Linked DNA regions of Homo sapiens: region 1 is linked to region 2. Evidence: fine-mapped QTL for protein levels in blood plasma. A gene starts in region 2. The other region holds a variant in brackets. All regions are shown on one strand. Distances are from middle to middle. Region 1 overlaps BMP6 (bone morphogenetic protein 6). Region 2 holds the start of TXNDC5 (thioredoxin domain containing 5).

The links. A credible set is the group of variants that fine-mapping cannot tell apart. PIP is the chance, under the fine-mapping model, that this variant and not a neighbour inherited with it causes the effect. The UK Biobank Pharma Proteomics Project read protein levels with antibody pairs (Olink). The fine-mapping took linkage between variants from a reference panel, not from the people measured, so its PIPs are less certain.
Region 1: its variant is the best candidate, but not a certain one, in a credible set for the plasma level of the TXNDC5 protein (UK Biobank, PIP 0.55). The variant lies in the coding sequence of TXNDC5. If it changes the protein, the assay may bind it differently, which can mimic a change of level.

What each region holds. Positions count from the first base shown.
Region 1 is chr6:7,869,676-7,884,499 of GRCh38, forward strand. BMP6 (bone morphogenetic protein 6) reads left to right here. Exons shown (of 7, transcript NM_001718.6): 5 at 9,399-9,475; 6 at 10,316-10,426; 7 at 10,519-12,053. The coding sequence ends at 10,668. TXNDC5 (thioredoxin domain containing 5) reads right to left here. Exons shown (of 10, transcript NM_030810.5): 9 at 14,684-14,813; 10 at 11,842-13,591. The coding sequence ends at 13,469. BLOC1S5-TXNDC5 (BLOC1S5-TXNDC5 readthrough (NMD candidate)) reads right to left here. Exons shown (of 13, transcript NR_037616.1): 12 at 14,684-14,813; 13 at 11,575-13,591. Among named protein-coding and RNA genes, the nearest start is that of TXNDC5, 34 kb to the right of the region's middle. RefSeq lists an enhancer at 12,391-13,590. The variant C/T (reference allele first, on the strand shown) is at 13,560.
Region 2 is chr6:7,910,502-7,924,425 of GRCh38, forward strand. TXNDC5 (thioredoxin domain containing 5) reads right to left here and starts at 287. Exons shown (of 10, transcript NM_030810.5): 1 at 13-287. The coding sequence starts at 275. The region is part of intron 4 of BLOC1S5-TXNDC5 (BLOC1S5-TXNDC5 readthrough (NMD candidate)); the gene reads right to left. RefSeq lists a silencer at 142-571 and enhancers at 2,412-2,561, 9,059-10,258.

The DNA.
Region 1 (14,824 bases), 40 kb before region 2:
TAGATGGAATGTCTCCTCAGTCATCACAGGGGAGACCAGGACTTAAGGTCGGGGAGCAGAGGCTATCAGCAAGGAAGCTGATTGTCAGGTCCAAGGCCTAGCAACTGAGATGAGAACTCCCCACCAGAACTGAGCAGACTGTAGGAGCTCAGCAGAGCCTGTGTGGAACGTGCACCTGCAACAGGAGGAGCAAGGGCAGGAAGATGCTAGAGGACAGAGAAAGGGGATCAGCCAGAGGCGTGTGTGCTGGGAGCTGCAGCATGTACCCCTGATGGCCCCCAGGAAGGGAGCTATGGCCCCTCCACCACCACCCTCAGAACAGGACTCTCAGATGTGAAAGCTCAGTTGTGTCTCAAGGACAAGAAGACTCCATCACTGTGTCCTCCCTCCCATCCGCTGGACTCCAGAAAAATGCACCTCCATATGGCTCCTTTCAAGTTAGCCCCCAACCCCTCCCAGGTGTACTGGCCCCCAGGTAACATGGAGGAATGACAGATAATGAAAGACACACCTGGGGCTTGGGAGAGGGATTTCAGAGCCATGGCTGGACCTGATGCTTTATTCCGAGGTGAATTCTGGATTGGAACACCCCGGTCTCTTATGGTAGAAAATGGCAGGCACTTCCACATGGTCCCGCCATCGGGAATGGATGGGACACTTCTACCTGTTTCTCTACCACTGATTGCATCGTGCAGAAGGCCTAAATGAGATGCAAGCCTCCCTTTGGCAAAGTATTGGAAAAATGAAGGCAACGTATTGGAAACATAAAGGCTTCATAAAGACACGCTTTGGGCACCACAGCTGGGACCTCTCTGCCCAACTCTGTTCTCCTTCTGAGGGGGATGGTGCCTGTCTCTGCCACCTTCTTTTCCACTACAGATCATGGAGAGTCTTGCTGAAGAACCTTCCTTAGGGGAAACAGGCATGTCTGTCTTGGATCTTTTTTTTAAAAAACAACAACAACAACAAAAAAAAACGGGTCTCACTCTGTTGCCAGACTGGAGTGCAGTGGCACAATCTCAGCTCACTGCAACCTCTGCCTCCCGGGTTCAAGCAATTCTCCTGCCTCGGCCTCCCGAGTAGCTGGGACTACAGGCATGTGCCATCATGCCCCTCTAATTTTTTGTATTTTTAGTAGAGACAGGGTTTCACCATGTTGGTCAGGCTGGTCTCAAACTCCTGACCTCAAACAATCCACCTGCCTCAGCCTCCCAAAGTGCTGGGATTACAGGCGTGAGCCACCGCGCCCGGCCTGTCTTGGATCTTTAGAGTTCATCTCCATCCCCGAAGGGAGTTGTAGAAGCTTCCTGTATCATGGGCCCCACTTGCCTGTCCCACACTGTGAGAGGAAACCCATTTACATCTCATGTCCAAAGCCATTTTTTTCCTACAAATAGTTTTGTGTGTGTGTGTGTGTATTGAGGGGTTATAAAGGAAAGCAGAATATTTTATCATGGTTTTTGCTTCAGTGGCTTTAGGACAAATTAGAACTCAACTCTGGTGCTAGAAAAGAAAAATCTCCACTTAAAACCCATGTTCAAATATCTGTAATGTTCATTTGGAGAAGAGAGGAAGGATTTGGGCTTTTTAATACTAATTGTACCTGAAGGTTTCCCTGCGGAAGCAGTTTATTAAATGGGACTGAAAGCCGCGCTGCTAAAGGCAATTAACATCTGATACATTCTCAAAGCTCAGAAATCTTTGGTGAGAGGAATGTTTCTGCCTGTGTAAGAGCAGGCCAGGGAGTTACCTTCTGCTTATGGAAGGAATTCGTCCTGGGGGGGCTTTTATGATTGTTGGATTTTGTCATCTGTGTCACCTGATCACTCAACAGTTTTTTGCCCAAACCCACCTATGGCTGGGCCCTGCTTGTCCAAGTTGCCCTGGATGAGCACCTGGGGCCTTGTCTTGAGGGGGAAAATTGCCTCTGGGCGGCTGGTGCCCCTGCCCTTGAGGGGGACCAGATTTCACTGTGTATTCAACTTTGAAAAAGCCAGAGCCCTTGAAAATGTCTCTCAGGACCAATATTGGGCCTTGACTGCAGCTGTGTCTGGGGATGCTGGGGAGCCTTGGGGTCCCAAGACAGACTTTGTGTCTCAGCAGGGCAGTAGCGCTACCTGTGTGTGAGCCTCTTGTCTAGAGGGCAGCAGTTCCAATTCTGGTGTCACAGGCGCATGTGGACAGCCAGGGGCCTGATCTCAGTGGCTCTGACTCATGGGTCTGGGATTGAGCTGAGAACCCCGCACTTTAGAGAAACTCCCTGATGATCCCCAGTATTCGGCACAGGCCACCTACAAGTCACACACTGAGAGCTTCTGTCCTGGCGGCGGGGGTGGTGGGGGAGGCTCCTCTGTCTTGGGTCAGCTTCTCTGGTTTTTGGTTTGTCGCCTCTCTCTAGCTGTCTCACTTCCTTTCTCTGCCCTGCCCTTGACTGGTGAATCCACTGGGGCAAAGCTGTGTTACCTCTCTTTGTCCCACTGGAGTGACCATGTTCCTGTTGAATTGTCACCACATACATTTCCACTGGCCCTCTTCAGCCCATTCATCAAAACCAATACCAGGGGCAGTGGGAGTGAGGGGAAAGTTTTTTCTGTAATCTGTAATCTGTCAATCTGTTTAAAAAAAAAAAAAAAAGTGTGTCAGTATAATTCCATGCAGAACCCAGGGTACTGACCCTGAGTGGCAGACACAAGTATTCCAAGGAGCATCAACCTTCATAAATATTTATACGTTCTTTGCCAGCACTTAACATGGAATTATAAGGAAATTTAAGCATGGCCTGAGAGTATCTGTAGGAAGAAAAACAGGAGAGTTGAATTCCTCCTTTTCCTCTCTCTGGCCCTGATCCTTACTTAATGACAAAAATGCCAGTGTCTGGCGCTAAAAGAAATAGCTGTTCTTCCAGAGAAGGTTCTCTTTGTTGAGCATTGAGAGAGTCAAATCAACAGCAGGTTCACAGAAACCCAGAACTGCTGGTGAAGTTAGAAGCAAAGCCCTTTGACTATGTCATCTTGGTTCCATCCAGCAGAAAAAGAAACTGGAAATCCAGACATGAAGTGGTGGTCTCTGCCTGTGTTCTGCCAGCAATTCTTCAACACCAATTAAGTGTCTTGCAATTCAATCCAATTCTTTTTTTTTCTTTTTTTTTTTTTTTTGAGACAGGGTCTTGCTTTCTCGCCCAGGCTGGAGTATGGTGGCATAATCAGGGCTCATTGCAGCTTCAATCTCCAGGGATCAAGCAGTCCTCCCACCTTAGCCTCCCAAATAGCCGAGACCACAGGCACACACCACTATGTCCAGCTAATTTTATATCTTGTAGAGACAGGGTCTGTGTTGCCCAGGCTGATCTCAAACTCATGGGTTCAAACAGTCTTCCCACCTTAGCCTCCAATAGTGCTGGGATTACAGGCATGAGGCGCCACATCTGGCCTCAGTTCAATTCTGATGCCACCTGGAGTTAGCACAGGCCCAAGTGAAAGGGCAAGGTCCCCAAGGAGACTGCTGTCATTTCAGACACCAGGCACAAGTGAGGTCCACAGGGCAGCCATGCTTCTGTCTGTCTTGCCTACAAATTTGGGAGTTCACATTACCGCCCTTCATGTTTGATAATTTGCTGGAACAATTCACAGAACTCAAGAAAGTGCTATACTTACAATCATAGGTTTATTATAAGAGGTATGACTCAGGACCAGCCAAATGAAGAGACTCTTAGGCAAGGTCAAGGGGATAGGCATGGGTGGTTGGAGCTTCCACACCCTTTTGGGTGCACCGTCCTCTTGAAACATCAGTATGTTCACCAACCTGGAAGCTCCACTGAGCCTCAGTGTCTGGAGTTTTTATGTGGGGTTTAATTGCTCTGCACAATTGAATCATTGGTCACATGATTGAACTCCATCTCCAGCCCCCCAGAGGCCAGGCTAAGCCAAAGTTCCAACCCCCTAATCCTGTGCTTGGCTTTTTTGGTAACTAGCCCCCATCCTGAAGCTAATGAGGTCCTAGAGAGTGTGTGGGGTTCACCGTGTACAATCTAGGGCCTCAGGAGCATAACAAAGACACTCAGGAAAATCCAAGGGTTGTCAAAGCTTGGTGCCAGGAACTGGGGACAAAGACCAGAGATATATTTATTATTTTCACACTGCCCATGTCTGCTTGACCTGGGAAAGAAAGTTGTTTGTAGAAATCTTTGCTTTTTACATGACCAAATGATGCCAAGATGGTCTTCATGGAGATTTTGGTCCCTAGCACGAGACGGTATTTTGGAGGAAGCTTACTTCACAAGCAGAATGAGGTTGGATGGGGAAAATCCCAGGCTAAGACTGTAAGTTGTGTGATCATGCAGTTTATCATCTAATCTAACCCAGGACACCTTTAGGAGCGCAGGGCGTTAGGACCTTGGGGTCTTCAGGAGACTCCCCTGCTGCACCCAGCTGGCAGGAGAGGAAAGAGTGAGTGGAAGGCTGATGGGGTAGGGGGCAGGTGGTTAGGAGGGCCAGGCCTGGCAGCACCACACATCCCTTCTTCCCCACATTCATGGGCAGAATCCAGGCACATGGCCACAGCTAACTGCAGTGGGAAATGTCATCTGGCTGTGTGCTCAGGAGGTTGATAGAGGATGTGGGTTGCTAATAAACACATCACAGCCGCCACATGGTTGTTCCTGGAATAGGTGAAGCAGGCTGCTTCCTCAGGGCCTTCACATTGTCATTCCCACTCTAGGAAATTCTCTCACCCCAGATGGCCTCATGCCTCACTCCCAAGGCTCCTCTTTTGCTTAGAAGATACCTTAACAGAAAGACAAGGCCAGGCGAGGTGGCTCACGCCTGTAATCCCAGCACCTTGGGAGGCTAAAGCAGGAAGATCACTTGAGCCCAGGAGTTCAGGACCAGCCTAGGCAACACAGAGAAACACCATCTATACAAAGTATTTAAAGAATTGGCCAGGTGTGTGATGTACACCCAGCTACTCGGAAGGCTGAGGTGGGAGCATCACTTGAGCCCAGGAGTTGGAGGCTGCAGTGAGCCATGATCACACCACTGCACTCCAGCCTGGGCAATGGAGTGAGACCCTGTCTCAAAAATTTCTTAAAAACCCACAAAAACAAAAAAATCCAGACAAGCTTGTCAACGCTATGTGAGATAGCACACTTGCCACCCTGTACTCTCTATGCCCTAACTATTGAATAATAATTTAGCTAGTCCGGGTTTTTACTAGTCAGAATTTTCCAGAGAGACAGAATCAATAGGATATATGGAGATATATATATATATAGGAGGAGATTTATTATGGGAATTGACTCAGGCAATTACGGAGGCCAAGAAGTCACATGAGCTGCTGTCTGCAAGCTGGAGAACCAGGAAAGCTGGTGGTGTAATTCAGTCTTGAGTCCAAAGGCTTGAGAACCAGGTGAGCCAGTGGTGTAAGTCCTAGTTGGAAGTCAAAGCCCTGAGTACTGGGGAGGGCTGCTGGTATAAGTCCTGAAGTGCAAAGCCCTGGGAACTGGGAGCTCTGATGTCCCAGGGCAAGAGAAGACAATGACCCAGCTCGATAAAAGAGAATTTGCCCTTCCTCTGTCTTTTTGTTCTCTCTGGGCCCTGAACCGAGGAGATGATACCTATCCGTGTTGGTGAGGGCAGGTCTATTTTACTCAGTCTACTGACTCAAATACTTATTTCTTCCAGAAATACCTTCACAGATACACCCCAAAATAATGTCTTAACAGTTGCCAGACTCAGTAGCTTACACCTATAATCTCAGCACTTTGGGAGGCCAAGGCAGGAGGCTTGCTTGAGGCTAGGAGTTCAAGACCAGCCTCGGCAACATAGCAAGTCCCCATCTCTGCATTAAAAGTTAGCTTGTGGTGGCCCGTTCTTGTAGTCCCAGCTGCTTGGGAGGCTGAGTGGGAGGATTGCTTGAGCCCAGGAGGTCAAGTCTGCAGTGAGCCATGATTGTGCCACTGTGCTCCAGCTTGCGTGACAGAGCAAAACCCCATTGCAGAAAAAAAAGTTTTATCAGCTACTTGGGCATTCCATAGTCCAATCAAGTTGACACAAAATTAACTATCACAGTGCTCTAGATTGCATGCAGTAGAAGCAGACTGTAATGAGAGAGAAAAGCGTACCAGGGAACTTACCCAATCAACAAAAAGGCTGGAGACTTAATTCAGGAAATCAAGGCTCAGATCTAGTCATGGAACAATGTGCTTTGGATCCCTCCAATGTGGTCATCACCCTAGACACTGGCTGCCGTACTACCCATTCTTGATGTCACCTTTGAGTCACTCCCTCAGGTTATACACTGCAGGGTGGAGACATTTGATTGGCTTTGATGAAGTCATGAGTCCGTACTTCAGATGCTAGGGGACAAAGAGGGGAGCTATCTGTCGTGGGAAATGGGGCTCTGAGTCCCACCTATCTAGGCATTCCCCCACATGCGAAGTGTTGCCAAAAGCTGGGTAGCAAAAGCAGTAAATATCCACTACAGCTGGGTATGGCATTCTAGGTTTGATGGCATCATTTTCATATTATTTAATTTTTTAATGTGTATTTTTGTTAAGTTTGCTATCCATTTTGTGTTTCTTAGTAATTTTCTTTTTATCTCTGGATTACTTTTAAGAATTTATGTGTTTGATATAATTTCACTACATGTGGCTAGATAAGAATTTATCTGATCCTCTTGGAACTCTTTGGGCCTTTTCAACTTAAAGATGTTTGCCTTTCTTTAGTTGTAGAAAATTCCCAGTCATTATGTCTTCAAATACTACTACTCCCTATTACTGCCTTCCGAAATTCCTATTAGAAATTTGTTGGACTTTTCATTCTCTCTTCCATGTCTCTTTACAAAGAGACAGTCATGTATTTTGGCCATTTGATTCTGTGCTATATTTGAAGAGATTTCAAATATACTGTTGAATTCTTTAATTCTGTCTTCAGTTATGTGTAATTTGATGATTATCTGTTTAATGTATAACTAATCTGTTAAGTAATCTGTTTAATCTGTTAATTAGACAACTAATGTTTAACCTGTTTAATCTGATCTTTAGTTATATCTAATCTGATTTCATTGTTATTTTCAATGGTTATGGTTTTTATAAAGTTCTATTTGACTCTTTTTACATCTACCTGTTCTTTTTTCATGTTTTTTCCCCATAATTTTGTTTTAAGGTTTCTAGTCCTTCTTTTCTTCCTTCCATTATTTTAGGTATTCTTCCTTTTTTTTCCTCTAGTTTTTGTTTTTAGTTTTGTTATTGTTTTGTTTTGTTTTGGTATTCTTCCTTTAGAGCTTAGTTCAGATGACTCTTATCCACAGTCTCTGGGGTCCTCTGGGTCTTCCCTTGCATTCCAGCCATCCTCTTGAGAGACTTTGTGTGGCTGATTCATTTTTGTTCAGGGGTTCTTTTCAGTAGGAAGTTTCTGTCTTATGGTGATAGTTGGTTGATTGTTTTTACTGAGAGAGTCCTTGTCCTGCATTGTGAAAATTTCCCTCCAGGGCTTCTCTGGGGTCCTTAAAGTTAAAGGCAGGGTGGTTCTGTTGGGTAACATAGGCAGGTGGAGAGGATAAATAAATTTAGAATTATAAACCACCTAAAAAAGTTGCCCCATCTCTTCTCCCAGTATAGGCCACTGGCCTGAGTCACTGTCTCTTTTCCTTAAAAAATCATGAAATCTGGTGGGGCATGGTGGCTCACACCTGTAATCTCAGCACTCTGGGAGGCTGAGATGGGCAGATCACTTAAGGTCAGTAGTTCGAGACCAGCCTGGCCAATGTGTTGAAACCCCATCTCTACTAAAAATACAAAAAATTAGCTGGGCATGGTGGCTCGCGCCTGTAGTCCCAGCTACTCGGGAGACTGAGGCAGGAGAATCGCTTGAACCCAGGAGGCAGAGGTTGCAGTGAGCCGAGCTCGTGCCATTGCACTTCAGTCTGGGTAACAGAGCAAGACTCTGTCTCAAAAGAAAAAAAAAAAAATTAATGAAATCTGCACGCTCTCTCCTGCTTCAGAGCCAGGAAGACTGGGAGTTAGAAGTTAGAAAATCAAGTTCAAACAGGCTTTCAACAATTAGGTGACTTACTGGCTTATGTAGTTGAAAAGGGAAGGGATAGCCTGCAAATGACCTAGGCTCTTACACCCACTGACATCCCACATTAGATGACCTTTCTCTAAAGCCTTCTCCTTGCCTTTTCTCTCTCCGTCGTTTCTCGAACTCTCCAACACAACTCCAGATGGATTAATCCTTTCGAATCACAGCGGGAAATGCTGCTCTGCAGCTCAGAACCCTGCAAAGGCTCACTTTGTGCCTCTGGTGGGAAGTCCGAAGCATTGTGGTTGGCAGCCTAGGCCATTCATTTCTCCAGCTTTATCTCATCCGACCCTGCTTGACACATCCTTAAATCCATTCCAGCAGAACTCCTCTCTCTTCCTCTCACTCCCACTCTGAACTGTCCCTTCTCTGAAGGGACATTTGCCTATGGCCCTTGCCTGTGTGATATTTGCCTATGGCCTTTGCCCGTAGCATCCATGTTCTGGTTTGTATTGGAGTTATTTGTGTGTCTGTTTTACACCACCCCTTCATTCACTGAGTTCTTGGAGGGAGGAAAGCCATGTCTGACTTACCGTCTATTGGCCGTGGTGCCAGGCAGAAGGCATGTCACGTAAGAGTCGCTCCAGTGGGCCTCAGTGAATTGGGGCACCCCCAGTGCTCTTGCTGGTGATTCAGTTAAGCCAGGCTAGTGGCCCCTGTGCTGCACAGGGTGGGTACATGCACTTCAGCAGAGTCTCCTGAGGAACCCCTGGCTTAGTGTTATTGCATCAGCACACAAGAGCTCAACCCTGGCAGTGAGGTGGGAGTACAGCCAGAGAGAGCATTGCCCCTGCGTGGTGTCTCCCTCTCCCCCGTTCCTGGGCCTCCTGGTTTGGCCCCACTCCACCATTACTCTTCCTTCAGGATACTCTTCTGGCCCGGCAGCTGTCTTGAAAGCCCCTGTGCAGTTTCAAAATGCTCCCTGTTTGGACTGCAGCAAATCCTGCCTAGTAGCGTTGTCTGATCATGTGAATGTGATGCCTTCCCGGTCTGGCGCCTCTGGGGTGTACTGGGCAAGTCGGCCCACGCCTCCATAGGCCTTGCATGCAGCAGGGCTCACAACACACCTCTGTTGCTTAAGGGTGTCCATTCAAGTCACCCTGCTCCCAGTACTGACCCCAGGGTAGACAAAACGGATTCCGTAAGACATTCAAGCCAACAGTCAGGAACCTGATGTAGCTGTTGGGTGACCATACTTGTATCTAGGAGGCTATCCTGAGCCTAGCACAGAGCCTGGCATGTGGTAAACTCTCTATGAAGGAATTAATGAGTTGATGGGTGCATCTTTTGATGGGTGCATCTTTTGATCTCCTCCAACAGATTACAACAGCAGTGAATTGAAAACAGCCTGCAGGAAGCATGAGCTGTATGTGAGTTTCCAAGACCTGGGATGGCAGGTGAGTTCTCTGGACACGGGGGATAAAGGTCCTTTCTCAGCAGTTTACTCTCATCTGAATGGTGGCAGCCATTACCAAACACCCAGAGCTTGATTGAAGGCTGAGCTGCTTCCTTCTGTGGAAGTCCTGAGGAGCCCTCCCAAATGCTCAGGCTCCTGGAGTAAGGCAGAGGAAGCTTAGTCTGTGGGGCACCAGGCGCTCCAACACCTTCCTAGGGTGCCTGAGCTCTGTGATCCCTCAAAAATCAATAGCCACATTTCCCAATATTCTCACCTCATCCTTTCAAAGCCCATAGGACATACATTTATTTGGGCATTTAAACAAATTTTAATTGAGACAGGGTTGGAAAAAAATTACCTAATGGTTAACATCTCCAATGGCTGCAAACCAGCTCACCAAACGATGCAGAAGAGCACACGTTTGCCTCGTACCTGAGAACCATCACTAGTTTGTAAGAAAGGCAGCAACTTTAATCACAGGTGGTGAGCGATAAAAGGTAGCTTCCATATGCAGGTGGCACTACTTCCGCAGGAGCACCGTGGGCTCCTGGAGAGGCTTGCTTGGGTCCAAGCACATATTGCTGGCAACCTACGTGCTTCCAGGTAGCAGCTGAGGCCCTGTGGGCCTCTGCAAGGAGCGAGGGTTCTGGGGTCAGATGGACCAGGTTCACTTCCCAGCATTGCCACTTGAATGTGAACTTGGACAAATTCCTAAGCCTTCCTGCGTCTGTATCCTTGCCTGTGCAATGTGAAAAATACCTTTTCACAGCATTCCTGAAAAGCACAAATAGTGTGAGAAGTGCATGCTCATCTTTTGTTGCTTCCTTTGCATGAAATTAAGGACTGGATCATTGCACCCAAGGGCTATGCTGCCAATTACTGTGATGGAGAATGCTCCTTCCCACTCAACGCACACATGAATGCAACCAACCACGCGATTGTGCAGACCTTGGTGAGCTCTCGGAGACTTTGTTTTGTAAGTGGGAGTAAGCCAAGACCAGGTGTCATTTCTAAGGTACCTTCTCCCCTTCTGTTTTGGAACAGGTTCACCTTATGAACCCCGAGTATGTCCCCAAACCGTGCTGTGCGCCAACTAAGCTAAATGCCATCTCGGTTCTTTACTTTGATGACAACTCCAATGTCATTCTGAAAAAATACAGGAATATGGTTGTAAGAGCTTGTGGATGCCACTAACTCGAAACCAGATGCTGGGGACACACATTCTGCCTTGGATTCCTAGATTACATCTGCCTTAAAAAAACACGGAAGCACAGTTGGAGGTGGGACGATGAGACTTTGAAACTATCTCATGCCAGTGCCTTATTACCCAGGAAGATTTTAAAGGACCTCATTAATAATTTGCTCACTTGGTAAATGACGTGAGTAGTTGTTGGTCTGTAGCAAGCTGAGTTTGGATGTCTGTAGCATAAGGTCTGGTAACTGCAGAAACATAACCGTGAAGCTCTTCCTACCCTCCTCCCCCAAAAACCCACCAAAATTAGTTTTAGCTGTAGATCAAGCTATTTGGGGTGTTTGTTAGTAAATAGGGAAAATAATCTCAAAGGAGTTAAATGTATTCTTGGCTAAAGGATCAGCTGGTTCAGTACTGTCTATCAAAGGTAGATTTTACAGAGAACAGAAATCGGGGAAGTGGGGGGAACGCCTCTGTTCAGTTCATTCCCAGAAGTCCACAGGACGCACAGCCCAGGCCACAGCCAGGGCTCCACGGGGCGCCCTTGTCTCAGTCATTGCTGTTGTATGTTCGTGCTGGAGTTTTGTTGGTGTGAAAATACACTTATTTCAGCCAAAACATACCATTTCTACACCTCAATCCTCCATTTGCTGTACTCTTTGCTAGTACCAAAAGTAGACTGATTACACTGAGGTGAGGCTACAAGGGGTGTGTAACCGTGTAACACGTGAAGGCAATGCTCACCTCTTCTTTACCAGAACGGTTCTTTGACCAGCACATTAACTTCTGGACTGCCGGCTCTAGTACCTTTTCAGTAAAGTGGTTCTCTGCCTTTTTACTATACAGCATACCACGCCACAGGGTTAGAACCAACGAAGAAAATAAAATGAGGGTGCCCAGCTTATAAGAATGGTGTTAGGGGGATGAGCATGCTGTTTATGAACGGAAATCATGATTTCCCTTGTAGAAAGTGAGGCTCAGATTAAATTTTAGAATATTTTCTAAATGTCTTTTTCACAATCATGTACTGGGAAGGCAATTTCATACTAAACTGATTAAATAATACATTTATAATCTACAACTGTTTGCACTTACAGCTTTTTTTGTAAATATAAACTATAATTTATTGTCTATTTTATATCTGTTTTGCTGTAACATTGAAGGAAAGACCAGACTTTTAAAAAAAAAGAGTTTATTTAGAAAGTATCATAGTGTAAACAAACAAATTGTACCACTTTGATTTTCTTGGAATACAAGACTCGTGATGCAAAGCTGAAGTTGTGTGTACAAGACTCTTGACAGTTGTGCTTCTCTAGGAGGTTGGGTTTTTTTAAAAAAAGAATTATCTGTGAACCATACGTGATTAATAAAGATTTCCTTTAAGGCAGAGGCTGGTCGAGATGCTGCTGTTATCTTCTGCCTCAGACAGACAGTATAAGTGGTCTTGTTTCTAAGATTCCTACCACCAGTTACTTTGGGCCAAGTATCCACATCCCCTTGCGTATGGGAGGTGGGTGAAGAGTGTTGGATGCAAAGTGGTTATTATGGGAAGTAGCTCGATGGTAAAAGGACAAACACCTATCTATCTTAGAGCTTAAGCCTGTATGTGCTTATTCCCAAGGGAGATAGAGGTGTTTAATCACAAGGACAGCATGAGTTAGAGGACACTGGCATCAACAGCTGCCACAGCCGTGCACACCAGGGCCAGAGCAGCCCACTGACATCTGTCTTTGGTCTTGAGATCAAATGCATCCCATTCTTCATACATTAGAAGGTCGACCTCCTTGAAGCAGACCAAGTATAGCAAGCCTCTAAAAGGACTACTGAGAAACAGAATCAGAAACTCTAGAACTCTAGTTAGGGCCCTTCAGCAGGGCTGCAGAGCCTCCCTGGATACCCAGGCCTGGGAAAGCCTGTCTGGTCTTGTCACCCCAGGTGACAAATACAACTGGAATCTTTCAATGAGTTAATGAGATACTGAGAATGAGCCTCGTGGAATTTTCCATGCCTACCCTTTCTAAGGAAGACATCCAACAGTTCATGTGGGCTCTGGCTTCGTGTTAACATGAGGAACTAAAGACATGTTTCACCCCGTGAGAAACAGAAGGATCCCCTGAACAGTAACTGATTTGACAAGTATCGACACATAAAGTTATGGCATCAGCATTCTCTTACTCAGGCACGGTCAGAAGTAACGCTGCTTTCATCACGGCTAACCTCTCACACTGAGAGAAGTATTCACAGCAACAGAAGCTCCAGCAGCGGCCGTGAAGGTATCTTCCAGAGGTGTGGGTTTTTGCATTTCAATCTGCTCCATGCTACGGACCAACACAGTATTGAGTCAACTGTGACCTTAAGATCAGAGGAACGTCAATACTGCCACAAGGCCACCTTTCCAGAACTCGTGGGCAGGTAAACTATGCTTTGGATGTGCTTTCTTTCACCAAAATCACTCAACTCAGGAGCCACAAATAGTCCAGCAATTTCATTTCCCTCAACGCTATTTTAGTCTCAAAGGAAACCATGTAAATTTCATCAAGAGAAGGTCAAAGGGGATATATCGCCACTGAAAATGTTTACACAGTGACCATGAGTTACACATTTACTTAGAGAAACTTAACTTAATAAAGAATCTGTAGAGTGTGTTGGCTTGGAAAACACACACACAAAGAAGATACCTCACGCTTAGTATGTTCTGCTTTCTGAACAGCCACCACTGGGAACCCAGTGGCCTCTGTGGGACTGAACTCCTAAACGCAGGGTGCGGGAGCTGGGCAGGAGAGGTGACCTCCAACTGTGTTCCTAAAGTTCGTCTTTCGCTTGGCTCAGGACAAAGCGGTGTAACGAGTCAAGGTCTCTGCCTCCACTGTGCTCACTGACTTTCTTCCCTCCT[C/T]GGAAAAGCAATAACGTGGGGTAGCCTCGTACCTTAAAACAAAAAAGAAAAAAGTTTGCAAACCAGCGGTCCAGATCACATGCAAATTGCTTCCTAAATAAAACCAGATACACTCCTACCGTTGTGGCTGGAAAAATTCTGTGGCTAATTTTTAAAGGTGTATATTCCATTAAAACAGGAGCAGACTACTGTTTAGAAAGCACAGCCGTGGGGCTGTGTGTTCACTTCTGAATTCAAAATGACATCATTAAAGATCAGCCTCAAAGGAACGACTTTACCCTAAAGCAGACGCTTTCAGTCTTTACTGTGCACACGATCACCTGCGGATCTGCTGAAGGTGCAGATTTGGATTGAGCAGGCCTGGGAGTCTGCATTTCCAATGACCTCCCTGGCGATGCCCTGGTGGTCTGCAGACCAGACCATGAGAGCAAGATCCTCTTGAGGATACATGTTTCAGTGGCAACTCGTTTCTAAGAATTTTAGGGCACAAAAAACAACTGGTATCTTTTAATGATAAGGAAACTATGTCTGGGTTACGTCTATTCTCCATCTAAAGGGCTCCAAAAGTGTCTGAATAACAAAGAAGAAAAAAAATGACAAATCTTCCAGGCCATCAGACTGTGCTAACAGCTTGGAATGAAGGCAGTAGTTAACCCAAGCACAGGACCGACTTGCTGGCATGGCCCTTTCAGAAAGGAGGTTATGTTGAAATGATTCTTAGATTCAGCCACTGCATTTTATAATGCTGGCTTATGTGTGAAAAATGAGCGACTCGGGTATTTATGGCAAAGGCTACAGACCACTGGTCAATCATCAAGAGTCGCGGTGTGGGAAGCCCCACAGTCTATGGCGTGGGGTCTGTTACTTCACGGCCTTGTTACTCAGACAGCAAGGCCTGAAAACCTGCACTGAAACATGGATACTAACTACAAAGCGGGCGAAGAAGAATGCCTTCCCTTTGAGAGAGGATCTCTTTTGCTTCTCCAAACAAACAACTCAAAGGGACATAAAAACCACATTGTTGAGAAGATGAGAGCAGAGTGAGTTATCGTGGTTGAGGCACAGTTCCCTTGGGATCTGCCCCCATACTGAGAGCTCCCATAAGCATCCATCCAAGTACCCACCGAATACTTGCTGCAGATATTCCGTTCAGCAGTGCAGTCTACTTCGGCGATCTTGACCCCCGCCAGACCAGGGAATTCCTTTTTAGAGAGTTCCTCCCAAGTAGGAGCCAGAGTCTTACAATGACCACACCTAAGACGAGA
Region 2 (13,924 bases):
GCGCGGCGTTACCAGGGCGCGAAGAACATGACGAAGTGCGCGGCGCTCTGGATCCCGTGCGTGAACATGTCGGCCGTGTACAGGTGCTTGCTGTGCGGGTCCTGTCCGTCCTCGCCGTCTGCCGCGGGGGGCCCGTCCGCCGCCGCCGCCGCCGCCTCCTGGGCCCGGGCGCCCCAGCGCCCGCCGCCGCCATGGCCCAGCAGCAGCAGCAGCAGCGCAGTCAGGGCCGCCGGCCGGGCCAGCAGCGGGAGGAGGCGTCCTGGGCGCGCGGGCATCGCGGCGGGGCTGGGCGCGCTCTCGCCGCGGCCTCCGGTCCCCTCGCAGCGCCCGCCCCGCGCCCCGCCCCGGAGAGGCCGCGCCCCTTCCTCTCCCCGCCCGCCCGCGCCGGCGCGCGACCGCTACCCGCCCGAGCCCCGGCTCCGCGCACCGGCAGGGAAGGGCTGGAGCGAGGGACCGAGTCTGGGAGAGCCTTCCGAGTCCGGCCTCCTGCCTTCCCGCCATGGGACGGCTCGCCCCAATCCCGCGAGGCTCCTGCGCCTCCGCAACCCAGGCCCGCACCCCTTTCCCCAGGGGCCCGCTCTGCTCAGAGCGGCGGTGAACACACGAAGTAACGATGAGGCCAGCGGGAAGCCACGGAGGGGCAGGTCAGCCTCGGCTAATCTCAGCTCACACAAGCACCCCGCGATTTCAGGCCAAAGGAAGGAGAGAGCTGCTGTCAGCAGAATATAGGAAATCGGGCAAAAGACGGTGGGGTTTGCACCTGAATTAGTTAGATTCTTGGCCAGAGCTCAACTGTGATTCTCGACCTGGGCTCAGAGGGGTGATGAAACCCGCTTCCCAAGTGAACCCCTTGCTGGTTACCCCTGCCCGGCCTCAACTCAGGGATGAAGAGGAAAGAAAGTCAAAGCGGCCTCTTCTAGACAAGAAGGCACCTAGCAGGACTGACTGGGGTCCTACTGTGCCCTCATTTATGCCGGTTACTAAAATGAATGACAGCACGCCTGCTATGGCTGAACTCAGCCTGTGGAATGGCCCGAAGGCATCCCTGCCCAGCGACTCATAACTCGCACCTGCACACACACCTTACAGCAGATGGTAATCGAAAGCTCCAGCCCTACCCCGGGGATCTGAAGCTAAATTAGAATCACCGGGTTGCTCTCCGGGATCCTGCCTGCTCTTTGATTATCCTCAATCCAGGAAGCCCCAGGTAGTTAACTCCTGGCTTGGCAACAGGGGACGCGCCCACTGTCTCACCTGTCATTATTCTGCTCCCGCCTTAGGCCCAGCCACTTATGAACCTTTAACCATGGGTTGCCAAACACCAAAACCATCAATCTCCCTCCAAAGTCTGTTCTTCCAGCCACTTAAGCTTGAAACATGGGAGGCATCTTGTATTGCTCGCTCTTTTCCCGTGTGTCTCAAAATTCAACCGCATTTCCTGTAACCATGATTTCCTTCCAGCATTCTCAGTGTTCATACCCTGAACGGAGACTAAGCCTGGCCTATTGCAGTAGCTTTCTAAGAGTCTCTTTCATTCACATGGCTGGAAAATTAATTTTCCTAAAGCCTGCCTTTGACCAAGACAGTTTGCTGCTTAAACTTGGACCAAAACGCCACCACTGTCCCCATGGCCTTGGCCGATGGGGTGAAATAGTCATGCCTGGGGCAGCCATTCAAGGCCTTCCGTGATGTGGTTGCATCATGCTTTGTGTCCCTGTGAAACTCACTCAACACTAGAAATCCAGGGATTCTCTCCAATAACTGTTATTGCCAAACTCTAATCCCTGTGTTCTCCAACACCTCAAACCTCCCAAACCCTTCCACGGTGCTGTTGGGAAATTCCCACAAGCATCGCCATACACTCTTACAGCATCAGTGTCTTTCGTTTTTAACTGAAACACAGTTCTAGGAGCTCTCTCAAGTGTTGGCTGCTCATTCTTTCACACCTGGAGTCCCTCAGAGCCAGGAAGTAAAGCTGATGCCTTCCTGGTTCCCCATTGCTCCTTCCAAATCCTACAAAACCTTCAGTACTCCTTAAATTGATGCCACTGGGCATGGCACCCTCTTCCCTGCCAGTTCCTGTCATTCTTCCACATCACTCTTCCTGGTTCAGTGAAGACTTTGGTTCCTGGCTCACAGTGTTCCTGGCCACCCCTTTCCTGTCTTTCATTCCTGGCATCTTCAGCATCCAGGTGGATGCTCCATCTACCTTTCCCTCAGTAACTCACACCCAAAAGGGAGACCCTAGCACTTGTCATCACCAGCATCTGCACCATCTCCAAAATCTGAAGGCATCCACTCTGCCCAGCACCTCCTCGACTGTTTGCTCAAGAAACCCATTTCTGCAATGCTTCTTTCTCATCATGACCTCTGAGCTACCCACCCCACCATCTTCTACAATCCCCTCGCAGCCCAACAGACTGCTATGTCTTCTCTTGCCTCTTGGCCAAGTTACAGCCCATGGAGTCTCACCCTTCACTTCCTGCCCTGCCACATTCTCCCCACAGATGCTGGTGAGCTTTGTCTCTCTGGGTTCCCTGTGCCTTCAACCAGGTAGCCAGACTCTGCTGGAGAAAAATCGCACAGTCAAGCCGCATGTCTCCTTCACACTGGTAAAAATAAGCCTTAAATTCCTCCTCACCCCTGCCCTAAAACTGACTACCTCTGCCTAGGCAGTGTGCTGCCCCACTCTCTGAGATGCTTCCATACTTCCACTGACACTGCTCCTCCTCTCCTCTCCCCACCCCACCCTGTCAGTCGCCATCCTCTCAGCTGCCAGCTTTATCTCATGTTTCTGAGAAAAATGAAGCCAAAAGCATGAGCTCCCTTATCCCTCCCCCGCCAAATCTACACACCCCTGCACAGGCGCCTTTCCCTCTGCCCACAAAGGAGCAAGTCAGTATATCCCTGCCTAGCAAAGCCCAGTCCTCCAGAATAATGCCCCTCACGGATAACCAGGTCCTAATTCCTGAAACATCTGATTGTTTCTTTATATGGCAGAAGGCTTTGCAGGTGTGATTAAATTAAGGGTCGTGAGCTGGAGAGATTACCCTGGATTATCTCGGTGGGTCCTAAATGTGATCACAAGTGTCCTCATAACAGAGGGGCAGTAGGAAATTTGACTACACAGCCGGAGGCGACGTAACAAAAGCAGAAAGAGATTTGAAGATGTTAAACTGCTGGTTTGGAAGATGAAGGGGCCAAGAGCCAGGAAAAGCAGCTCTAGATGCTGGAAAAAGCAAGGAAATAGACTCCCCCTCAGAGCCTCTGGAGGGACCTGCAGTCCTGTGGACAATTTATAGTCCAGTGCAACTGGTTTTGGACTTCTGACCTCCAAAACTGTAAGAGAATAAACGTACGTGGTTTTATGCCACCAAGAGTGTGGTGTTACAGCAGCCCTAGGAATCTCATATGCCCTCCCTGCTCCCTGCTCAAAGGCTTTGTTCTTCAGCTCCTCTCTTTCTCTCCTGCACAAGTTACTCATCACTCCTTCCTACTGGACCATTTTCATCAGTGTATAAGCAAAAAAAAAAAAAAAATTATCTGTATTTCACTTTCCATTCATCCTTCAGCTCATGCCACTCTGACTCTCAAACCTGCCACACACCAAGTCTTCTCAAAGTCACTGAAGATGTCCACATTGACAAGTCAAATGAACACTTTATGTTCCTCATCTTCCTGGGCTTCTCAGCAGCGTTGGTACAACTGCCATTGGCCCCATCTGCATCCACCGTCCTTTCTGCTTCTCTGATCTACCTCCTACCATCCCCACGTCACTCCTCAGTCTCTTCAACCCAACCTTTGATGTCAGTTTTCAGCGCTCAGCCTCCAACCCACTTTTGTTTCTCTGCATCACTCCCTAGGTGATCTCATCCATAGCCATGGCTTTAACACCATCTATATGCTGCTGCCAAAGTGTACATTTGCAGCCGAGGCCTCTCTCTGAGCTCTCACTATCTACAGGATGCCTCCTCTTGTTTGTCCTGCAGGTGTGCTGAAGCTGACCTTGTGCTTCCCTGCAGCAATCTGCTTGTCCTCCGATTTCCCCTCCTCAGTAAATAGTTCTTCCTCGCTGTTGCACAAACCAGAAACCTGAGTTGCAAACTTTGTCTCAGACTCCTGGCCTCAAGTGATCTGCCTGCCTCAGGCTCCCAGAGTGCTGGGATTACAGGTGTGAGCCACCACCCCCGACCTCTGAGTTGTAAACTTTGTTACCCTTTTTCTTTATTGCAGTGCCTTGATCCCCGCCTCCTACTCGATCTCCCCATCAGCAAGTCCAATCATTGCCATCTCTGAGCCACAGCTCCCACTGACTGATATCTCTCCACTGCTGCCATATCCTTCTCTTCCTGTCTGCTACAGTAGCCTCCTGAATGTTGTTTCCACTCTTAAGTCCTTCCCATCCATCCTTCATCCAGCAGCTAGAATTGAATCGTGTCACTCCTTTGCTTAACTTCCTTCAGGGGCTTCCCTTCACATACAGTCAAATTCCAGCTCTTTGCCTTGGCTTGCAAGGGCCTTCAGGAAAGATGCAATCTCAACCCATACCACTCTGCCCTCTGCTCGCCTAGATTCTAGCCATTAGGGATGATTCTAGATACCCTCCCAGCATTCCCCTTCTCAGGCCCTTGTGTGTGGTGCCCTGTGCTTGTTCCCTTCCTGTCTTCTGTGACTGGACTCCCTGCACCCTCAGGTCTCTTGCCCCCACGCCACCTCCTCAGTGCCTGGCGATTGCCTTTCCACATTGACAAGTCAAAGCCCCTCTCTGCAGCAGCCTCCCTCTGCCCACTGAGCTCTCACCAGTGCCATGCTGTTTAATTTCTGCATAACACTTTTTGTCATTTGATGCCATTTTGTTGCAGACTTAGCTGGTTAAGGTGGCCGTCTTCTCCATCAATAAGCTCCCCGAAGGCCAGGGGCTATTTGCCACATTCACTTCTCTCTCCCTAGCACCCAAATGCCTGGATACAGTTGAGGCTCAACAAGTGTTGGATGAAGGAACCCCTCTTTCTAACCACATCTCTTTCCCAGGCTCCACCAAAACAAACTGACTCACTGTGCCTGGCACCTTCTCTCACATGCGGCCTTTCCTGCATGACCCGGCCACCCCTCCACACAGGCTGCTCAGCGTCACTTCCTCTGAACTCCCAGCCCTCCCAAGGGACTGACATGTTGCTTCATATGGTAGCAGCCACACATGGTCCTGCTTAGATTCCCATCGCCAAGCAGCGTGGCTTCCAGCTCAGAAAGCCTAAAAGTGAAGATACAACTGAATTTGTGTACAGCGATGAAATAATACAATGTTCTCAGTAAAAAATTCCCTGACCTCCAGCTGGGGTTAGGCTTCCTGCACTAATATCTTGTCCTTTCTCCCCATATCCCTTCACAGAAGGGTAATTATTTGGTTGTGTGAATTTTGTTTAGCCTCGGACTTTCCCTCTAAACTGTAAGCCCCATGGCCTGAGAGGTGTTTACGTGATGTCTGGTACACAGCAGGCATTTAATACCTGATATGGTTTGGCTGTGTCCCCACCCAAATTTCATCTTGAATTGTAACTCCCACAATTCCCATGTGTTGTGGGAGGAACCCGGTGGGAGGTGATTGAATCATGGGGACAAGGTCTTTCCTGCACTGTTCTCATGATAGTGAATGAGTCTCATGAGATCTGATGGTTTTAAAAAGGGGAGACTTCCTTCATAAGCTCTCTTCTCTTGTCTGCTGCCATGTGAGACGTGCCTTTCACCTGCCATGATTGGGATGCCTCCCCGGCCACTTGGAATTATAAGTCCAGTAAACCTCTTTCTTTTGGAAATTGCCCAATCTCAGGTATGTCTTTATCAGCAGCGCAAAAACAGACTAATACGATACCTGTTTGTTGAATGAATGCATGAAGGAATGGATGAAAAGTCACATTTGTCTACCCTCAGAGGATGGCTTGCTTGAGAGAGACCCCCCTCAAAATCATGGCCTTTCCCAAGCAGAAAAGGCAATAGGTATGTTGGTCTGTATTGTTAGAAGTTAGTACTACTTCTAGCAAAATAGTATTGCTACACTGCCTTCTTTTTTTGAGACAGATTCTTACTCTGTCACCCAGGCTGGAGTGCAATGGCATGCTCTTGGCTCACTGCAACCTCTGCCTCCTGGGTTCAAGCAATTCTCCTGCCTTAGCCTCCTGAGTAGTTGGGACTACAGGCACCTGCCACCACACCCGGCTAATTTTTGTATTTTTAGTAGAGACGGGGTTTCACTATGTTGGCCAGGCTGGTCTCAATCTCCTAACCTCGTGATCCACTCACCTCGGCCTCCCAAAGTGCTGGGATTACAGGCGTGAGCCACCACGCCCGGTCTACGCTGCCTTCTTATTGCAAATCCACAGCCTTCAAGGAGCTGCACTCCCTTCCGACAGCAGCCCTGTAGGTGCATGGCAAAGCCTCTCGTTGGAAGCTGTCCTCATCCCAGGGAGCACATAAGAACTGACATGGGAGGAATGGCTACTGAATGGGAAAAATACAGCTTTTGTTTTCCACCTCCAGAGGATAACACAAGACCCAAATGTGTTGTAACATTGTCAAGACAACCCCAGGACATTCAGAAACTGAAATGCCACCATTTGAACCACTTTAACAGGTGCATCCTGAGTTATTATTGGGCGAACAGTACTGCTTTTAGGAGGTACTGAAAGCATTTACATCCTGTTGTTCTAATTTGGTCAGAACACCTTGGTAGGTGCCTCTAAAGAAGAAGAAAAACTGTGTTTTTCTTGATGAGCTCATGTGACCATTCAAATGTGATTGTTGAGAGGTGGAGAAAAAGCTAGAGGATTGCTCTCATCAGAGAAAATCTAAAGAAAAAGACCAAAGTGAATTCCCAGGCTGGAGTCACACAGGGAGTAGAGCTGTTTTCAGTGTATTGAAATGGTTAATGGAAAGGTCATATTTACTCACTACTCTCACAAGCTCCTTGGGCAACACAGCCTACTAAACAATTAATAAGCACCAAAAACCCACATTACATTATAACATAACAGATTCGGGTATTTGGCAGATAAAAGCTTTCAAAATCCATGTGGGATCTGTGAGGTCTCGGGGGTAGGGGGGAGGAGAATAAAGAGAGTTTCTTTGTTGACTGGATCATGACCACTAAGCTGAATGATCTGTGCTGTTTCTCAAAGTGCACAGAACACTCACTCCAGCTCCCAGGAGCTCATTCAGTCTGTGCAAGTGCTGGCTCTTCTCGTTCATGCCCCTGTCATTCTCCCAGCTCTTTGTCTGCTAGATGCTATTACAGGAGTTCTTATTTTTCCCAGAGTCCCCAGGTGCGGGGCCGATAGGCTGATCCAGAAGCTGATGCTCACCAGCACCTGGACTTCATAACAGGAGAGAAGACTTCTCCCTGATGCAGGTTGCTCACTGAGTTGTTCCACTCCTCTCTCAGCTGCGCTGGCCTGCAGTGATGGCCTTGGCCTTGGATCTGTGGCATTCCACACGGGCATGGGGACATGCCTCTCACAGCACTTAGGGGCCAGCTCTTCATAGCTGCCTGAATTTCAGAACACTATTCCAAGTTCAGAATCCAGGAAAATGTTTATCCTACCTGGGGGTTCTCAATTCTGGCTGCACATTGCAATCATCTAGGTCTTGAAAGCAATACTGATGGCTTTGTCCTACTTCCTAGGGTTGAGAATTCCTGGGATTAGAGGAGACACAGCCAGGATCTCAGTCCCTGGTGCGCCTGTGGCGGACTGTAGCAGGGCTCTGAGAGCACAGATGTGGAGCAGACCACCAAAGGAACGCTGATGTTTGCTGGAAGTTAATAGGTGTTTTCTTAAGAGAAGAGCTCTGACTGAGACATGTTTGAGGAACACTTGGTTAGGGTTAGGGTTAGGAGATAGAGAAGCCAGGAACAATGCCCAAATTAGACCACAATACTGCTCAAATTAGATCACAATACTGCTCAAATTAGATCACAATACTGCCACCACTGCTACCACCTCGACATGCAGATTCCTCCTATCCCACCTCTGGTACAGGACACTATATGTGACCATGGGAACCTCTGCAACCGCTGCCCTGCAGGATGGACTTTGCATGACCCCTGCTTCTTCGCAAAACTAGCTTCCAATGGAAGCCTCACTGCAGTAGGGCTCAATGGTCTATGCTCTATCCTAACTTGTGGCGGTTAGGTCAGAGGCTCCACAAATGCAGGAAAGGTGTCCAGTGAAGCTGGGCAGCCTGAAAGAATGTCAACTGTTGATACATTGAGTCCTTTTTTTTTTTTTTTTTTGGAGACAGAATTTCACTCTATTTCTCAGGCTGGAGTGCAGTGGTGCAACCTTGACTCACTGCAACTTCTGTCTCCTGGATGCAAGCGATTCTCATGCCTCAGCCATTGAAATAGCTGGGATTACAGGCGCCCACCACCACACCAAGCTAATTTTTGTATTTTTAGTAGAGACAGGATTTCACCATGTTGGCCAGGCTGGCCTCAAACTCTTGGCCTCAGGTGATCTGCACACCTCAGCCTCCCAAAGTGCTGAGATTACAGGCATGAGCCACCACACCTGGCCAACACACTGTGCCTTGAAGACTACTTAAGAATTGGCTGGATGAAGTGCTAATGGAAGAAGAAAGAAAAAGATAGAAACCTATTTCCTAAATGATTTATCAGAGATTTTTATTTGCGATTGCACCATCTGAATTCCTAAAAGTATCCTATGCAGTATTTCCCAACTTATTTGATTGTGGACTCCTTTTTATTTGTGGTGTCTCTTGTGTTGTTAATCCTCTGCAGAACACTCTGTGAAGTATTATATATAGAAGCTTGGGTCGTATTTCACATGGAAGGATCAATGTCTGGTTTCCTTTGCTTATTATAGCTGCAACATCTCCTCTTCCATTGTGTGCATTTAATTGCAAGAGAATTCACTCAACAAATATTTATTGGATCTAGTCTGTGTCAGGCACGTTTTTAGGTGCTGAGGATCAGCAACAACTGAAATAGACAAAAACCCTAGTCCTAATGAACTTCCATTGTAGGTGGGGAAACAGCCAATACGTAAGATATAGAAGATAAACACTATGTTAGCCAGTGGTAGAAGCCCAGAAGAAAACAAGGCAAGGAAGGGGGTATGAAGTGTCAAGGTTCAGATGGGATGTCAGGGTTTGGATAGGCTTATTGGGGACATGGCTTTCAAGTAAAGACGTGAGGGAGTAACACATGTGAATATCTGGTTCCAGCCGAGGGATCAGCAACTGCAAAGGACTTAGAGCGAATGAATAAGAAGGCAGTACAGAATGAGAACACTGGCTTTTACGAATGAGAAGGGAAGTCATCGGAGGGTTTTCAGAAGAAACACGACAGGATCTGGCTTCCAATTATTTCTACAGCATGGCTCTGAGAGCTGTAGCGAGGAATGCGAAGGGGGCAAGGATAGAAGGGAGGCGACCACTCCGGGAGCAATTACAACCATCCCAGCACAAGATACTGGTGACTCACGCTAAGGCGGAGGTGGGAGGGTGATGAGAAGCAGGTTCCGGGTCTCTTTTGATGTATGTGCCAACAGGATTTGCTGACTCAGCAGATGTGGGCTGAGGGTGGTGAGAGAAAGAGAGGAGCTAAGGATGACACTGAGGCGTTCAGCCAGAGTGGCTAGGAGCACTGAGTTGTTATAATCTGAGATGGGAAACAGGTTTTGGGAAAGAGTTGCTCAATGTTGAACATACTACAATGGGGAAGTCTGCAGATACACAGAGTGGGCAGATGGCTATTCAAGTCCAGGGCAGAGATGCAGGCCAGATATAAATTTGAGAGTCGTTAGCATTTGATGGTATTTAAAGCCCTGGGACAGGAGGAGATCCCTGTGGGAGTGAGTGCAGAGGAGGGAAGAGGTTTAAGGGCTGAGTCCTGGGGCATCTCACTGTTTTGAAGACCAGGAGATTAGGAGGAATGGGCAAAAGAGACTGGCATGGAGTAGTCAGGAAGGCAGGAAGAAAACCTGATTACTGCTGTCCACAGGCCCAGAGTAGAAATGTTTCAAAAGACGGAAGGAAAAGCTGTTTTGAATCTGCTGATATATCATGGTTTGCCCCCAGACAATCCCAGTTTACACCTACTGACATGATCTAGTCATTACTCACAGCCATTCCCCCTCCCACGTGTCTCAGTTTGGAAGGTACATTGACAGGGCATCCTGCTGACAGTTCAGGTGTAATGATCCCTAAGCACTCACCTTTAGATTTGGAGACTTTGGTAATAGTAGTTTTGGTGAACAGGTGGTAGTAAAAACCCAACTGGAGTGGCTTCAAGAGGGAGAAGAAAGGAATTACAAACAATGAATGTGAACAACTCTTCAGGAGAACTTGTCACATAAAGCAAAGGAAAAGAATACAATAGTAACTAAAGGAGAGAGAGGGGCCCAGAGGGTTTTGTTGTTGTTGTTTTTAACATGAAAGACAAGTCAACATGGTTGATTGTTTGATGATCCAGAAATAAAGAAAACATTGGTTGCCACAGGAGACAGAGGGAGAATTTCTGGAGTAGTGGCCTGAGGGAGTGCAGGAGGATGTTGCCTATGAGTAGGGGCAGACGTTGGCTTTCCAAGGAGCCCCAGTGGTTGTCTGTGATAAGAGGAGGGCAGGCACAGTGGGTGGGCACAGATCCAGAGAGGTGGGTCCAGGTGGCTAATGGTGGGAGCTGGCACCTGTCCCCTCCAGTGGCTTCTGTTTTCCACTGTAATAGAAAGCAGTATCATGGGCTGACACTGAAGATAGGGGAAGTGCTGGAGGTTTGGGGAGGGCAGTGAAGGTCTGAAATAGAGGTCACAGTGAGAACGGGAGAGGGAAAACAAGGCAGTTTGGTATTAATGCCTGGTGGCCTTGAGGCTCCACTTGATGTCAATTTGACATACCCGGATTTTCTCCAGGTACGTTCTGCTGTGTGGTTCAGTCACACAGTAGACAGTTGGATTTAGTCAGGCCTATGATTTAGCTAAGTGAGGAAACAAAGGCAGAGGGCGGCAACAGAGCGAGAGTGTATGTAGGGGAGAAATGATAACACTTGACTATGGAATTTAAGCAGGGGAAATTATAAAACATTTATCTTAAGAAGTTGTAATACTCAGCCTTGTATACACACAGTACACAAGTTCGTTATCTCTTTGACATGTTGATAACTTCCAGTGGGTCACGTGTCAGTTCATTTATTGAGAAGTCCTATTCCACGCCTTCCTCTCTATGTCTAATATGGCCATGTGGCTCAGGCCTTCACCTCCTCCTTCACGGATTATCTCCACAGAGTCTTGGCCATGACTCCTGATTCCATGTGCTCCCATCCAAACAATGTGCAATTGTTTTGGCCAGGATCATCTTGAGACAACAGCTTTATCATCTCACTGCTCTGTCCCAAAATAAAGAATAGCTCTGTATTTCCAATTATATCATATCACAAGTCCTCTGCCCGGCTTCTGTAGCTCCCTCTACTTTTGCAAACTTGTCTCTGACATTGCATAACTCTGCTCCAGACAGGCTTGCTTTCCTATTGTCCCTGCCACATGTTGTATCATTTCCAACTCTCTTCCTTTGCTCATGCTGTGCTTTCTGCTTGAAATGCTCTCCTCTCTGCTTTCAAAATCCTATCCATTATACATGGCAGACAGCAATAGTGGTTGGTACAGGAGGAGAGGTAGGATTGGAGTGGGCCAGGAGTAAAGACACACAGAGACATATATATATATATATATATATATATATATATATATATATATATATATATGTATCTATCTATATATATGTATATATACATATACATACACACACACACACACACACACACACACACATATATATATATACACATTGACCCTTGAACGATGTGGGAGTTAGGGGCATTGACCCCCACACACTCGAAAGTCCATGTATAACTTTTGACTCCCCAAAATGTAACTACTAATAGCCTAATATTGATCAGAAGCCTTACAGTTAACATAAACAGTCAAATAACACACATTTTGTAGGTTACATGTGTTATATACTGTATTCTTCCAATAAAGTAAGCCAGAGAAAAGAAAATATTAAGAAAATCATACAGAAGGAAAACACATTTGCACCACTGTGCTGTATTTATCAATACCGTAAGTTTATGTCATCTGTTTACAAGATGCCTCATCTGTCTGAAATGGCAGCAACCACAGCTGCAGACCTCAGTGCATATCAAACAATTCAACTTTTTTCTTGTAATGTCATGACTTTTCTCTGCTTCCTGGGAACCCTTCCAGCATCCCTAGTGGTGCTTTGTATGGGTCCCCTGGTATTATTCCAGGTTTTGGTATTGCAACAAACACAATGAAAAATACATGAGAACCATAAGATCACTTTTTGCTGTGATATGCAATTTCCTGAAGAGAGGAACTGCTTGAAGGGAGATGATGAGCATCACACAGCATTTGAAGCTGATACTCACAACACTTGAGCTCACTGCAATAGCTACAGGAGGTGGCTGCAAAATTATTATAGTAGTACAGTACATGCTACAGTTAATTTAATGCAGTTATGATTTAATACTGCATCTTTCTGTTTGTTTATATGTCTCTTGACTGAGAATGGTGCCATGTATGGTCTGTAAGTGTTTACATGCATGAGTTTTGATATATTTTAACTTTTTATAATAGCTTTGTGTATATTTTATGGTAGTAAATGATAAAATAGAATCTACATATATTTTATATATTCGTGACATACCTAGTTTTTTCTTAATTGTTAAGCATTTCTAGGTTATGTGCATATAACTAACATTTACATTTGAATTTTTGCAATAAGCTTGTCTTCATACCACTTCTGTAATTTTGTCATTGAAGAGTTTAAATGTAATTTTTAAAGGACTCTTCCTAGTTGCTATTTGGCAGTAGGTATTTTAAATTTATATAAGTATACCTTTTGACCCAGCAATAGGTCCAGGACCTTATCCTTGGGAGATAACTTCACAATTTCATTGCAGCATTGTTTATAATAGCAAACCATGGGAAGCAAACTGCTACCCCTCAGGAAAGCACTGAGTAAATTAAAAATGACATAGGTAGACCATGTGCAACATGCACAGTGGTGTATTTTAGTGGTTCATGGTGCAGCCTCTGCCATCAGACTACTGAGAGGCTTGAATGTCAGCACTACTCCTTCTGGCTGTATAACTTCAGGTGATTAAAATGTTCTGTGCTTAAATTTCTTCATCGGTTAGAGACTTTAGGGATTTTTTTTTTTTTGTAAAGAAGAGATAAACTATTTGAAACCATGTCTGGTTCCATGTAGAGTGTAGAAAGCAGGAAAAATTATTCCCCTACCCTAATAACAGAAAAATAAACTACAAACAAAACAAAACAAAAAGACCGGATATACTACAACACGATAACTTTTCATGAACTCATCAAAGAGCTGAGGGCATGGGGCAACCAAATATCCTTAAATCCAAGAAAAGTCAGGCTTCTCCAAGGAAAGATGGAGCACCCTCACTGATTTCTCTGTAGCAGAGACCAGGAGGAAGAGATGCTGGGACTGTACAAGTGGGTAAGAAGAATTTGGCTAAACTTTACGATTAAGAGCAAAAGCCAAGTGTGGGCTGGCACAAGAGTATAGCACCCCTGAGAACTCCACACACAAAGGGAGTTTGCACTCACATTCAGGACCTTCTACTGGGCCTCCACTGGATGCTCATGAGAAAGTCTGGAAGCAGAGCAATGAGACCAAGGGAACCTCCTTTGGTGGTGTGGACCTGAAGAATGGGAGTGGTTGTTGTTGTAGGAAATTCACAAAATCCTGACTGAACTCTCTTCTCCTATAAATATAGTTTAGGTTTCCAGGGCACTGGCAAAGTTGGGGGAGCTTGGAAAAAGGTAAAAAGAAAAGAAGTAACATCCTCTACCCCTGGAGAAGGGGA